Homo sapiens: one gene and its partners. The protein of the gene in region 3 purifies or fractionates together with the protein of the main gene of each other region. This does not show direct contact. Each region holds a gene or a part of one and is shown on either strand. Other genes may lie near its edges.

What was found.
Region 1: the proteins of KRT7 (region 3) and RNF135 purify together in Homo sapiens (affinity purification with mass spectrometry; one large-scale study listed by BioGRID and IntAct). This does not show direct contact.
Region 2: the proteins of KRT7 (region 3) and ACOT9 purify together in Homo sapiens (affinity purification with mass spectrometry; one large-scale study listed by BioGRID and IntAct). This does not show direct contact.
Region 4: the proteins of KRT7 (region 3) and SMTNL2 purify together in Homo sapiens (affinity purification with mass spectrometry; one large-scale study listed by BioGRID and IntAct). This does not show direct contact.

The regions. Positions count from the first base shown.
Region 1 is NC_000017.11:30,984,222-30,988,451, reverse strand, and holds part of RNF135 (E3 ubiquitin-protein ligase RNF135), read right to left. Parts: intron 3,836-4,230; coding exon 3,692-3,835; intron 509-3,691; coding exon 346-508; intron 1-345.
Region 2 is NC_000023.11:23,729,558-23,733,787, forward strand, and holds part of ACOT9 (acyl-coenzyme A thioesterase 9, mitochondrial isoform a precursor), read right to left. Parts: intron 3,661-4,230; coding exon 3,615-3,660; intron 1,430-3,614; coding exon 1,259-1,429; intron 1,008-1,258; coding exon 970-1,007; intron 1-969. UniProt on the Homo sapiens protein: Mitochondrial acyl-CoA thioesterase. Catalyzes the hydrolysis of acyl-CoAs into free fatty acids and coenzyme A (CoA), regulating their respective intracellular levels. Regulates both mitochondrial lipid and amino acid metabolism.
Region 3 is NC_000012.12:52,239,545-52,243,774, forward strand, and holds part of KRT7 (keratin, type II cytoskeletal 7), read left to right. Parts: intron 1-1,927; coding exon 1,928-2,092; intron 2,093-3,467; coding exon 3,468-3,593; intron 3,594-4,230.
Region 4 is NC_000017.11:4,582,812-4,587,489, reverse strand, and holds the start of SMTNL2 (smoothelin-like protein 2), read right to left. Parts: upstream 2,962-4,678; 5' UTR 2,885-2,961; coding exon 2,486-2,884; intron 1-2,485.

The DNA of each region.
Region 1 (4,230 bases), on a different chromosome or scaffold from region 3:
CATCACAAAAAAAAAAAAAAAAAAAAAAAAAAAAATTAAAAGTGGCCTATTTCAGAATCTCTGCAGTAAGATAACACACTTGATCAGTAAGGACCTGTGTGCATGGATCTTCAAAAATGAGTTTCTATCTATTAAGGACTTGTGATACATCACACCTTCAGTCATTGCCAAAAACATATTCAGCCACAAAATCACTTCAGCCCACCCCTACCTGATTCACGACACCACAGTGGTAATACAGCTGGACTCTGGGATCCTATCCCCAGAGAACAAAGCCATAGAGCACTCTGCTACTCCCCCCAACTTCCATATTTAATCCTCCTCCAATAAATAAGATCAGCTCACCCTGCATTTGTGCTTCAGGAGCCTCTTTCCAGGTGACGCTTTCTTGTAATTTTTCCTGAATTTCTTCTAGGTCATGGAGAATATCTCTGATTTTCCCTGCAGCTGTGTCGGAAGTCACCAGCTTTGGAGAAGCCATGGAAAGATCCACCCCAGAAGAAAAAGCCTATTGATAAACCATTTAAAACTGAATAAATGGAAGTCCCCTATGCAGTCTATCAACTATTATATTCAAGTTTTTCTATTCATCTATAATTTTCTATTTAATTCCCAGCAAGTTTTTAAAAACAAAATTAGGCCCTCAAAAAATATGCCTTGAAAAAAATCTGGAATAATTTGCTGTACATAGTACAGCAAAAATATCAAAGAGTGGTTATTTCTGGGTGATGGAGTTATGGAGCACTTTAATTTGCTTTATTTAATGCTATGTGCTTTCTAATATTTTGCACAATAAACATGGATTTCTTAGGTAATACCAAAAAAGTTTAACATTTCTAGGCGCATCTTATAGGGGCTTTATAAAATAAATACTACAGATAGTTACTGAGATAAACCATGGAGGTCAGAATAACCTTTTCGGCTAGGTGTGGTGGCTCACACCTGTAATCCCAGCACTTTGGAAGGCTGAGGAGGGTAGAACACCTGAAGTCAGGAATCCGAGACCAGCCTGGCCAACATGGTGAAACCCTGTCTGTACTAAAAATACAAAAATTAGCCAGGCATGATGGCAAGTGCCTGTAATCCCAACTACATGGGAGGCTGAGGCAGGACAATCACTTGAACCCGGGAGGTAGAGGTTGTACTGAGCTGAGAAGATCATGCCACTGCACTACAACCTGGGCGACAGAGCAAGACTCCATTTCACAAAAAAAAAAAAAGGAACCTTTTCCCACCTCTATCATTATATCATTTCACTTCGCAAGAGCTCCCTCTCAAATTGCCTGCATCCAGGTCCTGCTTTCTAGGGCCTTCAACACATGCTCCCTGATTTTCTTTAGCCTCAGGTCCTGTTCTTCCCCAATACAGCCCTTTATCTGCTCACCAACTTCAACCCCTTTCCTTCCCACCTTTGCATAATCCACTCCCCATTCTTTCCACCAATCAAAATACGGTAGTATTACACTTATTGAGTGTTTTCTACATGCTAGATATTGCCTTTCTCTCATTTGCATAACAACCTCACAAAGTAGGTTTATCAACCTGTAAAAAATCTCCGTTTTACAAAAGAAGATGAAATTCATGAAGGTTAACTAAATTGCCACAGTTAATTATAACATCCCACATTTTAACATTGCTCAAGCACTTTCTTATACCTCTTTTAATCCTCACAATAAACCAATGATGTGGCAGGCCCTGTATCATTATTTCTATATTACAGATAGGAACCTGAGACGCAGATAGATGAAATGACTTGCCCAAGGTCATAATACTAGTGAGTGACAATGTCAATTCTGAAAGTCAGACTCTCAGCGTTTCTATCCCAACACATCGCATCCCTAAAGATGGATTTATCCATACATTCAGTGGGTATTTGTTGAACCCCTACTGTAAGTGGGTACTTGGGTACTGTGCTAGCGCCTGGGGACACAATGGTGGACAAAAGAACAAAAGCATCAGCCAGGCAATGTGGCGCACGCCTGTAATCCCAGCACTTTGGGAGGCCGAGGCAGGTGGATCACAAGGTCAGGAGTTTGAGGCCAGACTGGCCAGTATGGTGAAACCCCGTCTCTACTAAAAATACAAAAATTAGCCAGGAGTGGTGGCGGACACCTGTAGTCCCAGCTACTCGGCAGGCTGAGGCAGGAGAATCACTTGAACCTAGGAGGCGGAGGTTGCAATGAGCTGAGATCACGCCACTGCACTCCAGCAAGACTCTGTCTCAAAAAAAAAAAAAGCATCAAAAGTCCCTATCCTCCTGAAGTTGAGAGTCCAGTGAAGGAAAAGGGAGGGGGGCAGACATTAATATAGAGTATGGCACAAGACATTACAAAGGTGCAATGGTGATAACCACTACAAATGAAAGGTACATGGAGTCCTCAGAGCCTCTAATGGGGAGATTTGATTTGTTCAAGGAAATCATTGAAGGCTTCTTTCTGAAGAAATGACGTTCTAGCTAGGATCTGAAGGATGAGCAAGTATTACCTAAGTGATGGAGGGAAAGGAGAGCATTCCATGAAGGGTGCCCTGTAGTGGGAAGACGTGAGACACACTAGAGCGACTGTGCGGCCAGTGTAGCTAGAGCGCACAGAGCCAGGCAGCATGAGCAGAGATGAGATTTGAGAGGCAGACAGAGATGGGATCCTACAGGGCTTTGCTGGTCCTGTGAGGATTTGGGTCTTACTCCTGAGCAAACTGATGTAATTTGAATGTTTTAAGCAGATGAGTTACATTTTCAGATTGATGTTTGTGGTAGTCACTGTGATGACCATGAGGAAAACAGACTAGAAGAGGGAGAGTGGAGCATTTGGAAGACTATGACAGCAATCCAGACATGAAATTATCAGAGGCTTGGATTAGAGCAAGTCTCAAAGGAGCTCAAGAATAAGTAAATAGATTTGAGAGGTAATTAGGCAGGTCTTAAAGCTACAATATGCTGCATATTAGGGTAAGGGAGAAGAAGGTAACATGATTTCCAGGTCTCTGGCTTCTGTACTTGGAAAGATAATGGGGCAAGCATTGAGATGAGAAATCCCAGAAGAGGAGCAGTTTAGGACGCATTAAGTGTGATGCTTTGAGATACCCAAGAAGAAAAGATGAGAAGGAAGACATAGCAGCCTAGTGCTCAGAGAAGGCTCCAGCCTGGAGCTATTATTTGTGCATAGAGGTGGTCATTAAAGCCATGGATGCAGGGAAGACTACCTGCAGGGGAAACAAAGGGACCTACAACTCAGCCTTGAGGAACTCCAGCATTTAATTCCTAAGCAGAGGAGAGAGAGCCTGTAAACAGACTGAGAAGGATCAGCCAGAGAGAGGTGGGGGAAAGCCAAAAGATTCCTGTCCCAAAAGCTAAGAATGAAGGTGTGGTCCACAGTGTCAAAGGCTGCTGAAAGGTCAATGAAGACAGGCACCAGAACGCTTATAGAGACAGGCACCAGAACGTTATACACAGAGGTCACTGGTGATCTTAGAGACAGCTTGTTAGGTGGAGTGATCCTAGCCCATCTGAAGCTTCCCAACCTTACCTCAAGCATTCCAAATGTCCAATCATCCATGTCTGGTAGTAAAGAGAACAATAAAAGATTGAGACTTATTGTATCCTTCAGGTTCAAATATGTTCATGTTGTTCCAGTTGAAAGCAATCCCTAGCCCTATTCCCTTCCACATCCTTTCCTCTCCCAGTGGAGCCTACCTTGCCCAGGATGCTCAGTTCGTTGTCTGGTCCAGATTCTGATAGGGGCCTCTGATTCTGCAGGCTTCTGACAATGTCTACAAGATGTTCCACCAGCTCTGTCAGCTCCTGAGCAACTTCTGTGATGCTCTTCTCTACTGCCACCTTCAAAATAGCAAAGTTCAGGTCCTGGGTTCTATAAAACTGGACCCAGGAACCACCACTAGACAGAGGGAATCATAAATACTGTGGTAATGGCATAAAAACAGACATACAGACCGATGGAATACAATAGAGTACCCAGAAATAAACTCTCACATATATAGTTAAATGATTTTTGACGAAGGTGCCAAGACCATTCAATGGAGAAAGGACAGTTTTTTCAACAAATTGTACTGTGAAAACTGGATATCTATATGCAAAAGAATATGGCTGGACCCTTACCTAACATCATATACAAAAACTAACTCAAAATGGATCAAAGACCTAAATGTAAGACCTAAAATAATACAGCTGTTAGAAGAAAACATAGGGCAAAATTTATGACATTGGATTTGGCA
Region 2 (4,230 bases), on a different chromosome or scaffold from region 3:
CATATTCAAATATTTGGGGGTGATGTGGCATCATGTCAGCCACTTATTCTCACATAATTCAGGGACAAAAAATTTTTTTCTTTTTTATTTTTGAGACGGAGTCTCACTCTGTCGCCCAGGCTGGAGTGCAGTGGCGCGATCTCGGCTCAATGCAACCTCCACCTCCCAGGTTCAAGTGATTCTCCTGCCTCAGCCTCCTGAATAGCTGGGACTACAGGCGTATGCCACCACGCCTGGCTAATTTTTTGTATTTTTAGTAGAGATGGGGTTTCACCATGTTAGCCAGGATGGTCTCGATCTCCTGACCTTGTGATCTGCCTGCCTCAGCCTCCCAAAGTGCTGGGATTATAGGCGTGAGCCACCGCGCCTGGCCACAGAAAAATTCTTTATACTGTATTTGCAACTTTTCTGTAAGTTTAAGACTTTCTTTTTTTAAAGTTACTAGTAAGAAAGATTATTCAGACTATACCTCCATTAAATAGGAATCTACATTTATAAGAAAAAAATTATGACAATTCAGAAGTAGTAGATGCCATTTTTTTTTTTTTTTTTTGGAGATGGAGTTTCACTCTTGTTACCCAGGCTGTAGTGCAATGGCACGATCTCAGCTCACCGCAACCTCTGCCTCCCAGGTTCAAGTGATTCTCTTGCCTCAGCCTCCCAAGTAGCTGGGATTACGGCGCCCACCAACACAACTGGCTAATTTTGTATTTTTAGTAGAGACGGGGTTTCTCCATGTTGGTCAGGCTGGTCTCAAACTCCCAACCTCAAGTGATCCGCCCGCCTCAGCCTCCCAAAGTGCTGGGATTACAGGCATGAGCCACCACGCCCGGCCGATGTCCTTCTTTTTTTGTGCACTTTAGAATATCATCATCTGTGCAGGTTAAAGAATAAAAGAGCCCTTTCCAGTCACAGAATTCAATGTATATCTGTAGGTATCTATTAGAAAGACTAAAATAATACCAGTACCTCCCAAGCTGTCAAGATCCTCAAGAATCCTGCCAAATCTGTGAAATAAAGCAAACAGTGAATTAAATGCAAATCATGTTGGTCTCCCTTTAAAAATAAATAACACACTTCAGGGTGATGAAAATGTTCTAAAATTGACTGTGGTGATGGATGCACAACTCTCTAAATATATCAAAACCATGGAACTGTACACTTTAAACAGGCGAATTGTATGGTGTGTGAATTATATTTCAAAATTGTTATAAAACAAGGAAATAAAAACAAATACATAAAAATAGCACTGTGTTACCTTACGGTGTTTTGAACAGTCAAATATTTCTCTCGTAATTCAGGCTCACTGCCCAAAGGCAAGAGAACTTCAATATAACTGTCCTTCATTCTCCTAGGAGGCAGTCCATCCTGTGATTTAGCCAAGAAACTATGAAGTAATTTCCTTTCTTCCATTGCCTTCACATGGTCTCTGAGAAGAAAGGATGCAGGATTCATAAAACAAGAGCAGTTCTAGCCCACAATTCCAGTGGTACACAGGCCAGTAAGATACCATCAAAGGAGGAAAAAGAAGGTCTGGGCCTACTTTCACCTTCTCTTCCTTCCCTCCCTTCCCACCTGCCACTTGGTGAAATTGATCATTTCCGGTATCATTTCTCAAGCTTAAAAACATTCTTAAGGCCAGGTGCAGTGTCTCACGCCTGTAATCCCAGCATTTTGGGAGGCCAAGGCGGGTGGATCACACGAGGTCAGGGGTTCAAGACCAGCCTGGCCAACATGGCAAAACTCCGTCTCTACTAAAAATACAAAAAATTAGCCAGGTGTGGTGGTGGGCACCTGTAATCCCAGCTACTTGGTAGGCTGAGGCAGGAGAATTGCTTGAACGTGGGAGGCGGAGGTTGCAATGAGCCAAGATCACACCACTGCACTCCAGCCTGGGCAACAGAGCAAGACTGTCTCAAAAAAAAAAAAAAAAAAGAAAACTTAAAACTGATATAGATATACCCAAATGAGCCATATATTCACCCTTATCAAAAAGTTTACTCAAAGACCAGAATATTTGAAATTAAATTAAAAATTTAGAGAGATGGACAAAATAGTATATATATATACATATAAATATATATGCTAAAGAATGGCTTGGCCACTCTACTTTATATTCCCATTTCTCACCTGACAGTTCTCGGATTCTTTGAGCCCCAGTTCTCTCTCTCTCTCTGCCTTCAATTTCAGGAAAGAGAGACAGAGGAGGGAAAATGGACTATATCCAAAGGAAGTATGGAAGGCAGAACAAAAGGTAAAGAAGAACATAACATGAAAAGGAGACAGAAAGGGAAGAAAAAGAAGAGAAGATTAAGGTGAAAGAGAAAAGAAAGACAAGGGGATACGGAACGACAATGTTGATAAGAACATTAGCTAAGATGTCTTTCTAAGCTTAACTTATAAAGTATTATTTCCAGAAATGTTTACCCTACAAAAACTACAGGAGATAGAGGAATGAGTTAAATGACACCAGTAAATCCAGAATGTGGAACATTCTCAAGACAAATGGCTTGGCCTCCTTAAAGTCAAGCTCATGGGGGAAGAATAGGGGAAGGACGACTGTCCATTACTCTAGATTAGGGAAGACTAAAGAGTCATAACCACCAGATGCAACATGCAATCCTTTATTGGATCTTGATGTTTTTTAAACAGCTATAAAAACATTTTTGTTAAAAGGAGTAATCTATTACACAAAATGGTAACAGTTGAGGAAATGTGACTATGGATGAGTAATATACTAGCAAGGAATTGCTGTCAATTTGATTACATGAGAGAATGTCTTATTTGTTGGAGATAAGCGAAGGCTGGTTTTATAAAATGTTTACTGAAGATGCACGCTGAAGTGTCATGGTGTCTATAATTTACTTAGAAATGGTTCAGGCAATATGTGTATATTGGAAAATTTGGCAAAATATTAATAAGTATGGAATCCAGGTGGTGGGTACACAGGTATTCATTCTTTCTACCTTTTAGTAAAGTGAAATTTTTCATATAAAGAATTTAAAAATAAGTCATTAGATAATTTCTATACCAACAATAGATTATTATATATCTAGTGATCACTCGTGTTTTTTCTATCTCATTTTAGCCTCAAAATTATGTACACCAAGAGGGATATGATCCTACTTTACAACAAGGAAATACTGCGAGAAAGAGAAAGACAATATGGGAGGCCTGACTAATTTTGAACTGACAAGAAGCAATAAAGGAGTCAAGTTGCATGAAACAGAGAAACTTAGCGACTTGGGTTCAAGTCCCAAACCCTGACATTTAATCATTCAATCTCTGAGTTTCAGTTTCATGTGTAAAAAAAGGAACAGGAACATATGTCGTAAGCACGTCACAAGTTTTGTTATGAGAATCAGTGAAGTAATATACACCTAAATGCACTTTGAAAATGCAGAATATACGTAAATCATCTTCTTTCATGACAATGAGGTGTCATCTGATGAGTATGTTGAAATGTTGACCTTCTCCCCCAAGCAAAATACTTCTCAACCTATCTCTGAACATAGGGCTCCCCATCCCCACTGTGAGACCATCAACTGAGCCTAAATACAGTGTAGTATAATACCTTGGGGATGAAAAGAATGAATGAAAACAAAGATGCATACCTCCAGTTTGTGGATGCTCCTACTATCTCCCGCAACTTATCTCGAACTGAAACAAAAATAAAGAGGTCATTCCATGAAACAAAGAAATATGAGAAACGGATTATGGCAATGAGCTCAAGAACTACAAAAAGCAATTCATGCACTCAAAAGATTTAAAGATCCATAGATTTCCATTTAATGCCACAACAAACAGCTCAGGGACAGGATCAAGCCTCTGCTCCCTAAAAACCTGAAAGAACTATACTGTCTCTTTAAAGGTGCACAAATGAATACCTTTGTGCCAATCACTAGGGTTTATATAAACAAACAAAAAAGGATAACTTCAATTATTCACTTAATGGGGCTGTATCAGTGTTAGCCAGTAAGAGCCATTATGATGGAGATATGAACAGGATTCCCACCTATCTTCTTTTTTGTTGTTTTTTTTGAGATGGTCTCACTCTGTCACCCAGGCTAGAGTTCGGTGGCACAATCTCGGCTCACTGCATCCTCCACCTCCCGGGTTCAGGCGATTCTCCTGCCTCAGTCTCCCAAGTAGCTGGGATTACAGGCGCTGTGCCACCACACCCGGCTAATTTTTGTAGTTTTGTTTTGTTTTGTTTTGTTTGAGACAGAG
Region 3 (4,230 bases):
GGTGGGGGTGAGTCAATCAGGATTGACCTTGGAGAGACATGGGATGATCGCAGCATTTCTAAGGAAGGGGGATTGGGTGGGACTGGAAGGAACCAGGAGGAGGTCAGGGGACTCCAGGTTGTGACAGGGTTCAAAGGTGGGCTAGGTAGGGCCAGCAGGGGAGCCCAAGTCAGGAGAGACTGGATTGCCTGAGCATTTACTCCCAGAGGGGCTGGGTGGGTAGCTGCCTGCCAACTCACCACTCTAATGTCCTCCCTTCCCTTCTTATTCTCTCCCTCTCACCCTTGTCCTCCGGGGTTTCCAGCTCTTTTTCTTCAAGGGGATTTAAAAATCTCTCCACTCTCATCAGTGTGAGTCTCTGGCCTTAGGCAGAAGGTAGGGTGGCCAGTCACCTGGCAGAGGCTAGGCTGGGCATAATTAGCTTGTGAGGTTAATTACAAACCAGTTCTTCAGCCTAGTCTTTGCCTGAACGTCCAGTCTCCACCAGCCCCTCAGAGCAAATGTCCACAGATTCATTAATTTCAGGGGAAGTTTCTTTGAGGCTTGCTTCAGGCACTTCTAATCTCAGGTCTTCCTGGGTCTATCACATGGTTTATTTATGTGTAAACACACATGTGTACACACACACACACACACACACACATATATATAAAGTTTTCTTTTCATGGTGAAAGTTTAGTTTATTTATGTGTAAACACACCTGTGTGTATATATATAAAGTTGTTTTCATGGTGAAAGTAATACATACTCATTGCAAAACAACCAAAAAATTAAGTAAATCGTAAATTGAAAATGGATTACTTGGCCAGGCGTGGTGGCTCATGCCTGTAATCCCAGTAGTTTGGGAGGCCGAGGTGAGTGGATCACCTGATGTCAGGAGTTGGAGACCAGCCTGGCCAACATGGTGAAACCCCGTGTCTACTAAAAATACAAAAATTAGCCAGGCATGGTGGCGGGTGCCTGTAATCCCAGCTACACGGGAGGCTGAGACAGGAGAACTGGTTGAACCTGGAAGGTGGAGGTTGCAGTGAGCCAAGATTGTGCCACTGTACTCCAGCTTGGGTGACAGAGCAAAACTCTGTCTCAAAAAAAAAGAAAAAAAAAAGAAAATGGATTACTTATACCCAATGCTACCATCTTTGTGTCTACCTTTCCAGACTTTTCTGTGCTTACATATACATAAAGATATAGAAATATACATTTTCAATAAAAATAGCATCATGCTTTATTTTAATTTTTATTATTATACTTTAAGTTCTAGGGTACATGTGCACAACGTGCAGGTTTGATACATAGGCATACATGTGCCATGTTGGTGTGCTGCACCCATCAACTTGTCATTTACATTAGGTATTTCTCCTAATGCTATCACTCCCCCCTCCCCCCACGCCCCCGACAGGCCCCGGTGTGTGATGTTCCCCGCCCTGTGCCCAAGTGATGTCATTGTTCAATTCCCACCTATGAGTGAGAACGCATCATGCTTTTTTTAATGCAACAGTATACCATGGGCATATTCCCCACAGGTAGTTGGAGCCATATCATCGGTGTACAGACTGCAGAGTATTCTGTAGCATGGTGGAATATGATAATTTCATCCATTCCCCATGGCCTCCCTCACAATAGAGCTCGTGCACCTACAGAACCTCACAGTGAGAAGTCACCACAGCGCACCACACTGTCCCTTTCCTTATCCCCTTTAACCCTGCCAGATTCTCGTTTGAGACACTGCTAATGGGCCCTCAGGGAGCCAAGGGTGGGCAGAATGAAGTAACTTAATGTGTGCTGGGTCTGGGCCCCCTTGCTGCCTGGTGACTCAGCCCACTCCCAGCTGTTCTCTCTTTTCTTTCCTTTGTGAGTGGGGAATCCCAGGGTGGGCGTGGGCATAGGATCCTGCCCTAAGTCCTGATGTCCCGTCTGGTCCCTACAGGAGTTGACAGAGCTGCAGTCCCAGATCTCCGACACATCTGTGGTGCTGTCCATGGACAACAGTCGCTCCCTGGACCTGGACGGCATCATCGCTGAGGTCAAGGCGCAGTATGAGGAGATGGCCAAATGCAGCCGGGCTGAGGCTGAAGCCTGGTACCAGACCAAGGTGTGAGGCCACCAGGGGCGTATTTCCTCCTGCCAGGGTCCTTGGTGGCAGCTTCCCTTACTCCTCAACTTGTCTCAAGCCTTCAGGGCCTGGGTCCCACTGTTCTGGCAGGCACCAGTGGTTTAAGTCTGTGGTGCTCAGCCCTGGAGAAAATCCCAAGATGGGAGGACAGGGCAGAGGAAATAGATATGGATTAATCATTATAATAGCTAAAATATGGCAAGTACTTACACAGTACTAGGCTCATGTAATTATTGACTCATGTAATCCACAGAACAGCCCTATTAGATAGGCATCATTATTACCCCCATTTTGTTTTATTTAATTTAATTTATTTTATTTCTATTTTTTGAGATGGAGTCTTGCTCTGTCACCCAGGCTGAAGTGCAGTGGTGCGATCTTGGCTCACTGCAACCTTTGCCTCCCTGGTTCATGTGATCCTCGTGCCTCAGCCTCCTGAGTAGCTGGGACTACAGGTGTGCACCACCATGCCTGGCTAATTTTTTTTGTATTTTGAGTAGAGACGAGGTTTCACCATGCTGGCCAGGCTGGTCTCAAACTCCTGACCTCAGGTGATCCACCTGCCTCGGCCTCCCAAAGTGCTGGGATTATAGGCGTGAGACACCGCACCCAGCCTATTACCCCCATTTAAAGATGAGGAAATTGAGGCACAGAGAGGTTAAGTAATTTGCCTAACTGCATACAGCTAGTAGATGGAAGAGCAGGGACTAAATCCTGAATGTGAGGGCCCTAGACCTGGGAGGCTTAATCATCACATCTACTTCATGGTGGCAGGACAGTTGATGGTGCAGGGGCTGAGGGAGCAGGAGTGGGTGCTGGGGTGAACCAGTGTTCCTGAAGAAGGGATCCCGAGGCAAGGATTGAGAGGTCTGCCCCTGCAGAGATAGAGAGTCATTCATGGTGCCTGGGTGAGAACACAAGTATGCCAACAAGAAGACCTGGGTTCAGGCCCTCGTTCCATCACTGATTGGCTGTGTGATCCCTGGGTGGTGCTTTCTCTTCTCCAAGACTCACTCTCCTCACCTGTGAAATGGGTGTTCTGGGTGTTGAATGGGTGCGAATCTCAAACTCTCAGTGATTCTCCAGCAGAAGGGCATGGTGGGAGTGGAAGAGCCCTGGGGTCCATGGGGATGGGACTGCGGAGCCTTGTCTGTCCTCCCTGCCTGGCTTGGAGGAGAATGAATCCCTTCCTCACACTGCTGTCTGGTCTCCTGGCATCGGGCAAAGGTTGATGGGAGTCAGACTGTCCTTCCCTGAAAATATAAGTTGGGAGGGGCCTTGGGTGGGGAGAGGGATGAGTTACCTGTACTCACTGCCCATCTCTCTGCCATAACTCTCTGTATGGCCCCTCCAGTTTGAGACCCTCCAGGCCCAGGCTGGGAAGCATGGGGACGACCTCCGGAATACCCGGAATGAGATTTCAGAGATGAACCGGGCCATCCAGAGGCTGCAGGCTGAGATCGACAACATCAAGAACCAGGTGGGACAAGTCCTCCTGGCTTCCCCTGCTACTTGGGGCATGCAGGGGTGGCCAGCTGAGGCCAAACTCAGGATGTGGAGCAGGAGGTTCCCATCTCCCGGCCAAAGCTGGTGCCACTGTCTCAGACCCCCTTGTGAGATCTCCAGCACAGAATGTTCTTGGCCAGGTCCTGGCATGGGCTGATGGGAGAAAGGTCCTGGATGTGCACAGAGCCTGTGGAGGGAGACTCAGGCTGGCTGGCCAGAAGAAAGCCACCACTGGTTCCACATTGATACTGAGCACTCTGCTTGCACCTGGTTCTGGCTGCAGGGCGCTGTCCCTGGGAGCTCATCATTCATTGCAGGGACAGAGGACAGCAGAAGACCTTATAATGACTCACATGGCCCTTTCCCACCCACTCCAACCTCACTTTCCACGATTCCCCTCACTCTGCTCTGGCCATGCTAACCTGCTTCCTGCATCTTGCATTTGCCAAGAATGGTCATGCTTCAGGGCCTTTGCACTTGGCGTTGCCTCCCCCTGGAATGTGGTTCTCCCAGCTCTGTCCATGGTTGTTGTTTTCTCCTCCCTGGGGTTTAGGAAAAGACCCCTTCTCAGAGACGGCACTCTCAAACACCAGCCCCTCTATCGGCAGCCT
Region 4 (4,678 bases), on a different chromosome or scaffold from region 3:
GAGTGTGACCAAGCTCTTGATCACATCGTGCTGGTCACAGGACACGAGCCAGCACATGGGGATGGCTCCACACAGTCCCTCCTCTCAATGCTGGACACTGGTCTGGAGGCTGTGACAATGCTCCTGAGACGGAGGACAGCAAGAGAGATGGGGATTGGTGCTTCGGGGGTCAGCCCAGCGGCAGCTGCCTCAGGCCCCGGGAGCCAGGGCTCAAGGGGTGCAGAGCCTCTAACCCAACTGGGGACCATAGCCATGTTCCACCCACAGTGCTCAGCTACCCTTGCTGCTCATGCCCCTGGGTGCCTGGGTCTCCATCTTCACTCCCCAACAGGCCGACGCATCTTCACTGACCCCAGCCTCTTCTTCCAGGAGGGCTCCTTCTCTGGTTTGCTGAGAGTGCACTCAGGTCCTCCTCACTCCCTGGCAGTTCCCCGGTCTGGTTTTTAATTCCTTCAGACTCTTTGCTTCTGCCCAGAGAGCTCCCTAATCTCCAGGCTTGCTCACTGTGTGGAGCACCAGATCCATGAATCCACCTGCTCTGGGACAGCTTCACCTGGAGTTCCCATAGTCCCCTCATGTTCAGCACGACCCGGGTGGAACCCAGCATCTCACCCCAGATCTGTGACCCAGCAGTCCCCCAAGTCAGAGCTCCCCTCTGAGACTACCCCATCTGCTCATTCCCCCTCTGAAACCCTGTCCAAGGCAGCCCCTCTACACACCAAGGCCCACGGCCCAGCTCAGACCTTTCCTTTCTCCTTGGACCATCACAATCAAGTTACCCACCTCCAGCCACCCTCCACCTTCCATCCACCCCGAAGAGGGCTTGCCAGACACAAAGAAGACCCTCATCCTGAGCTTCATCCACCAACTCCTAACCTAGTGGACTAGCTTGGTGCCAGTGAACAATGGCTAATCTCCATTGACAAAAATCACGACTGGAGAGAATTCCCTCTCTCTCTCTCTCTCTCTCTCTCTCTTTGTGTGTACACACACATCTACATGTATATGTGAACCTGACATTTTTTTTTTTAATTTGGACAGCTGCTGCTATGAGCAGACAAATAGCAAATGCATGTTCAAATAAAACCTCAGAAACAACCGATGACACAGTTGATGAGGCACGTGTGAGCTCACAGTGGTGATTTTAGACCATGGTCACGTAGAGTGTCATGTTCATAAGACAGACTTAAGTGTATCCACATTTCCAGACATTTCACACGGAGCACTGGGACACTCCCGGGTTCTGCTACCATGACATGTTTAAGAACTTCTTACAGGCCGGGCAAAGCCCAACTCCTCTGCCCAGCACACTAGGGGCATTCGCCACTGCCCACTCCACTCGCATACCTCGAGGCTGCACTCACCAGTGAGTACTTTCAGCCTTTCTGAGGCTTCCTGCACAGCCCCCACCCCACCCTCATCTGCACCAGTAGCAGCAAGCCCCAGGCCCCCAGCACAAAGCCTTGCTGAGATACCCACTGAGAAGGGGCTAACTACTGTGTTTGGAGCAAAACATCTCTGGCTGCCCAAACTTGGTCTGGGGCCATCTCCCACCCTGGATGGGACCTCCAGGGGGAAGGCCCAATCTGATACCCTCCTCCAGGCCCCCTAGGGTCCAGCCCAGCCCACAGCGGGAAATCTGAGAGCCCCAGGGATTGCACCAAGGAGGGAGCAGGTGCAGGCTACACAGCCCCAGATCCTGGGAACCCAACCCGAGAGCACATGCCTGATCAGGATGGAAAATCCCACCCAAGGGCCACTGCACACACCATGGACACATTCTAACTGCTCTGGGTGGCCCATGCGCAAGGTAGTGACTGGTCCACGTCGGCCTCCGCCCTATCCCCACGTGGTGTGGGCCTCTGGCTAGTCACTGACCCGAGGAATCTAGACACGGCTCAAGGCGGGTTTCCACCTCTCTCCCTTCACGGTAAGGGATTTACCCCCTGCGATGGAGAGTTCCCAAAAGCCGCTGCTGATCGCGTCCCCCTCGACCCCCCTCCCCACCCATCCAGGGGCCTGAGTTCTCAATCTGAGTTAATCAATAACCAGAGCCGTCAGGCCTCAGTGAAGCGGCAACGCAGGGGAGCGTGAATGGAGGGTGGGGGTCAGGCAGGGGTGTCGACCATTCCAACATGCCCCGCGTGGCTCCAGGCAGTGCTGAACAGTCAGGGGCCGGACTTCGGCGCCCAAGCCGTTGATGTCATGGGACAGAGGAGAGAGGGAGACAGGACTCTGAGCAAACAGAGCCTGGCTCTAAAACAGGGCGGAGGACCAAGACAGGTGCAGCTGGCAGGCTCAGCGGTCCTCCCCCCGCCCTCTCCAACTCCGGAGGGGCGGCAGGACCCCCATCACCTAGTCCGAGCGGCCGGTGAAGGCCCCAACCCCGCAGACGCGAGCAGAGGCAGGCAGTCGGGGCGAAGGGGCGGCACCCGGTTCGGAGCCCCACTCCCTGGCGCCAGCGCACGCGCTCCCCCGGGCTCACCTGGCCGCGGCCGGACAGCGAGAAGGTGGCGTGGCTGGCGAAGCGTGCGCTGCCCAGGCGGGGCGCGCGGTCGGGAACCCCGGGCGCGGGCGGGGGGCTGGGCGTGCCGGGAGTGCCGGGCACCGGGGACATCCCGCTGGCCAAGCCCAGCGCCTCCACCTGGCGCGTCAGGCGCTCGAGCTGCGCCTGCAGCCGCTGGTTGTCCCGCTGCAGGTCGGCCACCGTGCGCGCCAGGGGGCCGGCCAGGCGCATCGCCTCTGCCACTCGCCGCTCCACGCCGCGCTGCAGCCCCCGCATGTCCTCGTGCAGCGCGCGCACCGCACCCTCCAGCGCCGCCTCGTAGCGGCCCAGCGCCTCGCGCACAGTGCGCGCCTCCTGGGCGTCGGGGGCCGGCTCCATGGCCCAGCAGAGCGCGCGGGTCGAGAGCGGGCCAGACGGGGGAGAAGATCCGAGCTCCGCAGCTCCGGGCCGCGACTGGCCGTCCGTGGCTGGCTTCGCTCGAGGGGCTGCCGGGGAGGCGGGCGCGGGGCGGGGCCTCGGGGGCGGAGCCGGGGACGACTCCGGGACACCCCCCTGCCCTGGAGCCCAGCGGGACGGTGCGGAGGGAGAGCTCGCCCAGCCTCTCCCCTCCCCGGCTCTTAACTGAGCCCTGCGACCCCGGAGGAGCGGCGTGCGGCCTGCGGGAGGGGCGGCGGGCCCACCCGAAGAAGGCCCTGGCCCCCCTGGACCGTAGAGAGCACACCCGGGCTGACGCGTTCGCTCGGGACTCTCACCCGCAAGGCCCAGGTTCCTCCGGGGGCGGAGACTCCCGGGCTAATGGGGACACCTACAGCTCCCACAGCTGCCGCCCCACTCCGCGGGGCCCTCCCTATGCAGCGGCCACGGCTCTCGCAGGCACACGCTCACCTGTGGGACCTTCGCCTGGAATTTCTTGTATCTGTTCTAAGACCTCAGGGAGGAGACAGGTGGTGAGGTCCCCTCCCTGACTCTGCGACTACGCGCTGTCCCCTCCCAGTCCTACTCTGTATAGCAAGATCTTCGTGCCCTTCCCACTAGTGGTCGGTAGAGGCTCCCGACCCACCAAGGGGCCTCCGTTAGGAGATCCTGGAGAGGCTAAGGGCAGACAGAGAAAGAAGGGTGTGCTGGAGCTGCATCTCCAAATCCTGGAATGGGCGGCTTTGCGACTAATCGCCCCCTCCCGCAATGAGAGTCTCAGTCACTGGCCTCTACCCGTAGGCCAGGGGTCTTACCCCTATTCCTTCTCAATGCTCTTTATGGCTGAACCCAGATAGTTCCCCCTTCCAAATGCACACCCCAAACCATCACCAGAAAAGGGAAGAAGGGAAACAGGTGTTGCTTTAGGACGATGGGATGATGGGCAAAGCTAACTCTAAGTTTTCGCTATATCATAAAGCTGATTTAAAATAAAAATGAGAACATATCCTCCTTTGTGCAAAAAACCTTTCCTAATTGGCCTTCTTTTTCCCAAGCCTGGCCTGCCTGAAAGAGGCCCAGAGGCTGGGCATGCATAGCCAGCTGACCTGCAGGAAGGAGAAGTCTGAAAGGCTTGTTCATATCATGTTCTGCTCCCAAGGTTGTTTGGAGCCCACAAACCCTCCTGGACTGGCCATCATTGCCCCAAAGGAACTGGAGCAGCCTGACAGATGCTAAATGCTGGTTCTCTCCCCCGCCCCCAGCCCCAAGGGGACAGGAAGGAACGCTGGGTTACCTAATCCAAGGAGCCTTCCAGCAATTATTTCATGAAAAAGGCAAATGCCAAAAGGTGTGCATGCTGCATATATGTGTGAGCATGTGTGTGCATTCCAGGTAGCCATCTGGACAGGGTGAGCCAAACTGCTCCCTGAATGCTTTCTCCAGGTGGAATCTTTAGTAGCAGCCTCCAGAGACGCTGCTGCTGCTCTTGCCGCAGACAGCACTCAAAGCCCCTCCAGGTCTCAGCACAAGAACCTGGAGTTCAAAAACCCTGGTCTCAGCCACAGAAGCCCAGTCCCTTCCCTTCTAAGATCCAAGGAAGGACCGTGTGGAGAAGCCTTGAGAGGGACTGGACAGGCTGGTCTCTAGGCTTCTCTCCATCCTCCGGGAGAAGGCAGGCTGGCTGGGCCATTGGTGGGAAGCCTGGCAGGGAGGAGGAGGTGACAGATCGTAGAGCCTGTGGCTGCCTGGGATCCATCC